Homo sapiens: one gene and its partner. The protein of the gene in region 2 interacts with the protein of the main gene of each other region in a biochemical or structural test. Each region holds a gene or a part of one and is shown on either strand. Other genes may lie near its edges.

Region 1 (3,936 bases), on a different chromosome or scaffold from region 2:
ATCTGCATTTTAAACACTTATCTGCACGTTGTTCTACTAAAAAAATATACTAGAAAGGACCGAGAGTCAACGATTCTGAAGGAGTTTGTATCAGGGTCTCTTCTCCCTACCTCGTCAAGTTTAAACACACCCAACGCCTCGATTCCTTGCTTCCGACCCGAGTTGCTGCTTTACATATCCCTGTACATTTGAGGTGTTATTCGTTGATATTTCAATATATTTTAAAATAATTTTCCATTTCTGTTTTGTTAAATTTTTGAATACGTTCTTTTGTATCTCGTGTCATTTCTGCCTCTGGTAACGTTGTCCTTGGTATCCTTGGAACTCATTTCCTTTCTCAACACACAATATTCCCTGTCAGCTGCCACGGGCCCCGCCCTCCAGAAGTTCATACTTTGTGGTCAAGCAGCTTCTTTAACTTTTTAAGACGAATTACCTAGGAAGTGCTATTGTCCCAGGATCACCAGCTCTGCCTAAATTCCTAACTGTTGCGGGTGCTTAGTCACAGAAGATGAATCAGATTCGTCTAATGGGCCCTTTCCTTTTCCACCCACCTTTCCTGTCGCTTTCCGCTGAGCCTCCTCAACTCACGTCATCCCAGCAGGTCCTGGCCCCCAGACCCGGCCCTGGACGGCACGGAGCCCCAGCCCGGGAACGCAGCTGCGAGCGTCCGACCGGGAGACAGCGAAGCTCAGATCTCTCTGCAAAGCGAACGGAGAGCGCAAGGAATGCCCAGGAAGACAGGGCGCGCCCGGGGAGAAAAGAACGTTACTTTAACGCAGCCTCGACCCTGAACCCCCGGCATCTAGGGCTTCCTGGACGAGTGGAGCAAAACAACTCGCCCTGCTGCGTTCCCGGGCCTCTCCTTCCCCTTGCTGGTTTCCCCTTAAGTCTACTTCTCTATTGCTTCCAACCCCTCTCTCCGAAGGCACGTGGTCCTTCCCCGCCTGCCCCCGCCGCACCCCTCCGGGCCCGGAGCCGGCTCCTCCCAGCGTCGTTCGCTTCCCCTTTCCGTTCGCTCTTTCCGCCCCGGCTCTCCATCGCCCCTTCTGATTGGTCGAACGCACCGGAGCCTGGTTAGCCAATGGGCGAGCCGGGCTGGAGGCGATGGGCGTGGCCGCAGCGCCGGGGCCCTCAGATCGAGGCTGCCTCCCCCTCTCAGCCGGCAGCACATTCCGTCGCCTTGCCGCCGCCCGGCCCCACAGTTGTCTTTGCCGGAGCTGCAGTCGCGCTGGGGTTAGGGCGGGGGGGCGGGCGGGGAGAGGAGAAGGCCGCGGCGGAGGCAGGTGAGAGGAGGAAGGAAGCGGCGGCGCGGCGGGCACAGCAGCTCAGGCGGCGGCCCGGTTCCTGGGAGTGTCGGTGCGGCGCGTTGGTTGGGGCGGATCCCGCGGGGCCCGGGCGGGGGAAGGAGTCACCGGCCCGGCCATGGCGGACAACGAGAAACTGGACAACCAACGGCTCAAGAATTTCAAGAACAAAGGCCGCGACTTGGAGGTAAACTCGGGGACGACGCCGGAGGGGTGGGGGCTGTGGGCCTGGGGCCGGTCTCCGCCGGGACCCCGAGTGTGGGGATTAGGGGCGGGAGCCGCCTCCAGGCCTCGGGGAATGGCGCTAGGGGCCGGCCCGTCTGTGACGCCTCTGCTAGCGCGCCGGGAAGTTTATGTCGGGCCTGCTCCGCCTCCGCCGGGGAGCGAGGTGCCCGGGTACGGCCGGCGCGGCCTAGGCCTGCCCGGCGGAGCCGGCCCGGCGCGGGTGCGAGGGGCCGGGCCGCGCGGCGGGGAGGCCGGGCGCGGCGCGTGCGGAGGAGGCGTGCGTGTGCGGCCGGTGCTGCCCCGGCCGGGCCGCGGCCCCTTCCCCGGCAGTGGCGGAGATTCCGGCTCTCGCTCGGGCACCGACGTCTGGCGCCGCGGGAAGGAGGGCGGTGGGAATGGGAGGGTGAGCGTGTGGCGACCGAGTGGGGCTCTGAACTTCCTCAGCGAGGCCCGAGGCGTCTCCACTTAAAGGCATTTTTTCTGGTCTTCCCGACTCCCGCTTTACCCCTGCCTCCCCCCAATATCCAAACTACAGGACAACTTCTCCGTTGAAAAAAACACCCCCGGCGTGAGAGGCCATCCTGGTGATCCTAACAGTGCCTTCCAGCGGCCTGTGTTTTACTCTGGATATAGCTGATTCAAGATGTGGCTCACGGTGTGCCCTCTTCCAGGCAAAGGATACCCCTTATTTCAGCTTGTCCACAAATCTCTTTACCCCCTCCTGAGAGGAGACCACCAGCTGCATTCTTACATATAAAGTCTAAAGGGTTATACAAAGCTGTCATCCTCTAGTCTACAGTATCCTTTCCCTCCACCTGCTGGTGGTGGTAGTGGGGGATGGGGTGGGCTAGGGAATGGCACCATCACGTTTGATTATTTAAAAAGGAAAAAAAAAGCTTCATTGTCTTAGATACAGCTGCTCCCGAGATTGTCTACATAAGGTGTATGGGTTAAATACACACATGCACACACGCATACCCACACACCCCACTGAGATTTTTGATAGAAGACTTCTTCCCTTCAGCTTTTAAGAGTTTAGATAAATAGATTTAATACTTCCCTTCTGCATCTTAATCACGAGTTTAGCTTTTAGGGAAAGTGGTCAAGCAGTATTTTTTATGTTGTTCTCGGTACGTTTTCATAATGAAATCTTCAACTTCCCATGGCATTTCTGAACTTGAGAGTCTGCTTGACTGAGATATTTTTTGGGCTTTTTACAAAGCTGTTAATATTATCTTTAAAGTAGTTCAAGCGTTTTAGTGGGTTTCATAATTTGAGGGACGACTAAGTGTCCAGGGATGTTAATTCTGTGGTTCTTTTAAGGTTAACATATTACCATTGTGATCCCTTTTTTTAATGCAAAGATGTCACATCTTTATTGAGATAATTTGCATGCCATAAAAATGAGCTTCTTAAATAACAATGATTTTTCAGTAAATTTACTTGTTTATGAAAGAATGTGGTGAAAATGTTTTTTACTAATATGAATACTTAGAATGAGAAAAAATCACAAATGATAAAACTTAAAAACTGGTAAGTACCACAAAATTACAGAATCCAGAAAAATAGCAATTAGGTGCTTGACAGATCCCTATAACCCTTTTTTCCTCTACATTTCTGGCTTCATTTTTCTGGCAGCTTCATTGAGATGTAATTCGCATGCCATACAATTCACCCACTTAAAGTGGCTTTTAGTGTATTCGCAGTTTTGCAACCATCACCACAGTCCATCTTAGAACATTTTCACGGCCCCAAAAAGAAACCTGTACTCATTAACAGTCACTCTCCAATTCCCAACTACCCCAGCCCCAGGCAACCAGTTTTTGTCTTCTTAGATTTGCCTATCCTGGACATCCCATATAAATGGAATTGTACAATTTGTGCTCTTTTTTAACTGGCTTCTTTCACATAGTGTAATGTTTTCAAGGTTTATCCGTGTTGTAACAAGAATGTATCAATGTTTCATGGCCGAATGATCCTTATGGCCGAATGATCCAATGATCCTCCAGCTCATGGATATACCACATTTTATTTATCCCTTCTTCAGTTAATGAACATTTTCATTGTTTCCACTTTTTTAGCTATTTTACATAATACTACTAAGAACATTTTTGTGTGGATGTATGTTTTATTTCTCTTGGCTATATACCTAGGAATAGAATTGCTAGATCATATGGAAACTTACTTTGAACCTTTGGTGGAATTGCCAGACTTTCTGAAGTTATCCTTATTTTTTAAATTGATGTTTCCTCCTACCTCATATCTTTTGGCACTTTAGTCAAAATCAGATTAAGTCCTGAGGCTGTATTAGAAGAATATTGTGATGTGTGACTTTTAAAAAATAAGTATATATTGACATTAGCCAGGTTTTTTTGTTTTGTTTTGTTTAGAAATTCATAGTGCC
Region 2 (4,599 bases):
ATGTGTCTCACTTTAAAAACTAGAAATGATTAGGCCGGGCACAGTGGCTCATGCCTGTAATCCCAGCACTTTGGGAGGCTGAGCGGGTGGATCATGAGATCAGGAGATCGAGACCATCCTGGCTAACACGGTGAAACCCCGTCTCTACTAAAAATACAAAAAATGAGCCGGTCATGGTGGCGGGCGCCTGTAGTCCTACCTACTCGGGAGGCTGAGGCGGGAGAATGACGTGAACCCAGGAGGCGGAGCTTGCAGTGAGCCGAGATTGCGCCACGGCACTCCAGCCTGGGCAACAGAGTGAGATTCCGTCTCAAAAAAACAAAACAAAAACTAGAAATGATTAAGCTTAGTAAGAAAGGCATGTCAAAGCGGAGACAGGCCAAAATGTAGGCCTCTTGCACCAAACCAGTAACCATGTTCTAAAGGCAAAGGCAAAGTTCGAATAGAAAAAGTGCCATTCTCATTGGGCACAGTGGCTCATGACTGTAATCCCAACACTTGGACTAGCCTTGGATGGCAAAACCTTATCTCTGAAAGAAAAAAAAAAAAATCCACAAAAATTAGCCAAGTGTGGTGGCATGTATCTACTGTCCCAGCTACTTAGGAGGCTGAGGTGGGAGAATCGCTTGAGCCTGGGAGGTTGAGGCTGTACTGAGCGGAGTTCGTGGCAATACACTCCAGCCTGGGTGACAGAGTAAGACCCTGTCTCAAACAAAACAAACAAACAAACAAAAAGAAAACAGAAAAGTCACTCCAGTGAACGCACGAATAAGAAAGCAAAGCAGCCATATTGCTGATATGGAGAAAGTCTGAGTGATACAGATAGAAAATCCAACCAGCCACAACATTCTCTTTAGCCAAAACCTAATCCAGAACAAGGTCCTTTAATTCTATCAATGTTGAGAGAGGTGAGGAAGCTGCAGAAGAAAAGTTGGAAGCTAGCAAAGGCTGGTTCATCAAGTATAAGGAAAGAAGCCATCTTTATAACAACGAAGTGCAAGGTGATGCTGGAAATGCTGATACAGAAGCTGTAGCAAGTTACCCAGAAGCTCTATCTAAGATCATTGATGAAAGTGAATACACTAAACAATGGATTTTCAATGTAGACGGAACAGCCCTATATTGGAAGAGGATGCCATCTAAGATTTTCATAGCTAGAAAGAAAAGGCGGCAGTGCCTGGCTTCAAAGAACAGGCTGACTCTTTTTGGGGGGATAACACAGCTGGTGACTGTAGGCTGAAGCCAATAATCATCTGCCATTCTGTGGGCCCTTAAGAAATTATGCTAAATCTACACTGCCCAATAATAAAGCCTGGATGACAAAACGTCTGTTTACAGTATGGTTTATGGAACATTTTAAGACAACTTGAGACTTGTTCAAGAGAAAAAGATTCCTTTCAAAATATTACTGCTCAAGTGCTCTGATGAAGATGTACAAAGAGATGAATCTGGTTTTCCTGCCTGCTAACACAACATTCACTCTGCAGCCCATGGAATAAAGGATTCTCTTTTCTCTAGATTCTTGCCAATACTTACTGACTTTTTGAAAACAGCCATCCTAACAGGTATGAAGTGATATTTTATTGTGGTTTTGATTTACATTTCCCTGATTGCAATGTTGAGCACCTTTTCATATACCTGGTTGGACATTTTGTGTCTTCTTTGAGAAATGTCTATTCAGGTCCTCCACCCATTTTTTTTAAATTGGGTTATTCATTTTTTTTGCTACTGAGTTGTGTAAGTTCCTTGAATATTTTAAATATTAACCCCTTATCAGATGTTTTTCATATTTTCTCCCAACCTGTAGTCTGCCTTTCATTCTGCTGTTTCTTTCTTTTGCGGTACAGAAGCCTTTTAGTTCAATGTAGTCCTAGTTATTTATTTTAGCTTTTGTTGCCTATGCTTGTGGTGTGATGGCCAAAAAACCAATGCCATGGCCAATATCGAGGAGCTTTTCCCCTGTTTTCTTTCAGCACTTTTATCATTTCAGGTAGTAAGTTTAGGTCTTTAATCTATTTTGAGTTAACTTTCACGTATGGTGTAAAGGTCCAGTTTCATTCTTTTGCAGGTGGGTATCCAGTTTTCCCAACATTTCTTTTTTCTTTTTCAGACAGTCTTGCTCTGTCACTCAGCCCGGAGTACAATGGTGTGATCTTGGCTCACTGCAGCCTCCCCCTCCCGAGTAGCTGGGATTACAGGCACCCGCCACCACGCCTCGCTAATTTTAGTATTTTTATAGAAACGGGGTTTCACCATGTTGGCCAGGCTGGCCTCGAACTCCTGACCTCAGGTGATTTACCCGCCTTGGCCTCCCAAAATGCTGGGATTACAGGGTGAGCCACTGCGCTCAGCCTCCCAACACCATTTCTTAAAGAGGCTATCCTTCCCCCATTGTGTTTTCTTGGGTGCCTTGTCAAAAACTGGTTGACTGTTGTGTTCCTTTCTATTCGCAGTTCCTAAGGTTCAGAACATGCATGGTCTTATAATTTATTGCCTTACCTATTACAACATCTAAATGGGTTTCCTTGTCACCATTTTCTAACCACTCCCATCGATTACTTCACAGTAGTGGCAGAGTTTGGACTCTTCACAAGTACTGATGCCATAAAGCACCAAAAACATTTAGTGGCTCCTTCCTCCTCCACAATATTCAAAATCATGTCCACTCTGTAGCAAGCACTGAAGGACAACCAATTGAGCTTTTCAATCAACTGCCGATTTTCTCCCTTTTATGTTAACCACAGACCATCTGTTGATTCTCAAGAATGTCTAGCCCTTCTCTGCCTAAATCTTAAAGATGAAAAGCTTATACATTATTTAAGATCTAGCTCAAACATTTTGGCTTCCACAAAATCTTTTCAGCATGCCTAATCAAAATTCACTGTTTTCTCATTTGCATTCTCATTGGAATTGTACGTAATTCTAATAGAGCACCAATCTACCTACCTGTTATCATAGCTATGTGGTATTACATATTCAAATATCCTTAAACATGTTAAAACATTTTTATGACATGTTTGTATCTTGAAATCCACAAAGTGTTTACCTAATACATGTTTAGATCAAGCTTGTTGAACACATGGCTTGCATGTGACCCAGGATGGCTCTGAATGTGGCCCAACACAAATTCATAAACTTTCACAAAATGAGATGTATTTTTTGCAAATTTTTAAAAGGTTATTGGCTACTATTAGTATTAGTGTATCTTATGTGTGGCCCAACACAGTAATTCTTCTTCCAATGTGGCCCAGGAAGCCAAAAGATTGGACACCTGTGGTTTAAAGAGTTAAGTAGAATAATACTTTCATGCACACAATATTCCCCAAATTAATTCACAATTCATCTACTAACCTCGTAATTTTCTACTTCTCCATCTTCTACATCTAATTCAAAGCTGAAAGTTGGGCCCACTGCAGGTGGCACTGGAAGCATTGATCTGCAGTGAAAACAATCACACTAGCATTGATATGTTAGTACATTAAATCAATGAACAGGACAGGGAGGACAGAGGCCAGTGCTATAAGGATGAAGAATGGTTAGTGTTAATCTGACAAATTTAACAAAACATATGCAAGAACTGTACAATAAAAACTGCAAATAGATTGCTAGGATAACTTAAAGGTGAATAAACAGAAATATACCACATAAGAAGATTAGAAGACTCAATATCATTCAGATGTCACTTTCTCCTTAAAATAATCTATAAATTCCATGCAATACCTACCAAGATTGCAGCAAGCACTTAAGTAAAAACTCACATGCTGATTTAAAAATTTATAAGGAAATGCAAAAGACCTTAAACTGAAACATTTTAAGACCAAATTGGGAGACATACTATATCTGACATTAAGATAGAAAGATAAATAGAGAAAACGGGGAGAGAGAGGAAGGAAGGAAGGAAAAACTATGACCACAGTGTGGTAACGTAAGCACGTGGCCTTCTGGTATAAAAACTGTATTTCCTAGCATTCCCAGAAAGTAATTATAGACATGTGACTAAGTTCTGGCCAATGTGATACAGAGGCAGGGGTTATACGTGCCACTTCTGGGACATATCCTTGAGAGGAGCAGGTAGGCAGAGGAATCTATTTTTATTTTTGCTAGGTGGAATGTCATATGACTAGAGCCTGAGAGGCCACCTTAGATCTTATACAGGAAGCCATTAACATTGTTCATAGTCACAGGGCTAACGAAATCATCGTTGAGCTGCCTACTTCTAGACTTTATTATGTGAGACAGAAATAAATAATTACTGGCAGGGCGCAGTGGCTCACACCTGTAATCCCAGCACTTTGGGAGGGTAAGATGGGCGGATCACCTGAGGTCAGGAGTTCGTGAGCAGCCTGGCCAACATGGCGAAACCCTGTTTCTACTAAAAGTACAAAAATTAGCTGGGCATGGTGGTCCATGCCTGTAATCCCAGCTACTTGGGAGGCCGAGGCAGGAAAATCGCTGGAACCTGGGAGGCAGAGCTTGCAGTGAGCCGAGCCGAGGTGGTGCCACTGCACTCCAGCACAGACTTAAGAGCGAGACTCCATCTCAAATTAAAAAAAAAAAACAACAAACCTACCCATGGGAATTTCTGTTACAGACCAACTT

The links.
Region 1: the proteins of RNF38 (region 2) and KPNA4 interact in a test that uses a peptide from one of them, tested with the Homo sapiens proteins (one large-scale study listed by BioGRID and IntAct).

Annotation. Positions count from the first base shown.
Region 1 is NC_000003.12:160,562,772-160,566,707, reverse strand, and holds the start of KPNA4 (importin subunit alpha-3), read left to right. Parts: upstream 1-1,136; 5' UTR 1,137-1,425; coding exon 1,426-1,494; intron 1,495-3,936. UniProt on the Homo sapiens protein: Functions in nuclear protein import as an adapter protein for nuclear receptor KPNB1. Binds specifically and directly to substrates containing either a simple or bipartite NLS motif.
Region 2 is NC_000009.12:36,347,764-36,352,362, forward strand, and holds part of RNF38 (E3 ubiquitin-protein ligase RNF38), read right to left. Parts: intron 3,437-4,599; coding exon 3,352-3,436; intron 1-3,351. UniProt on the Homo sapiens protein: Acts as an E3 ubiquitin-protein ligase able to ubiquitinate p53/TP53 which promotes its relocalization to discrete foci associated with PML nuclear bodies. Exhibits preference for UBE2D2 as a E2 enzyme.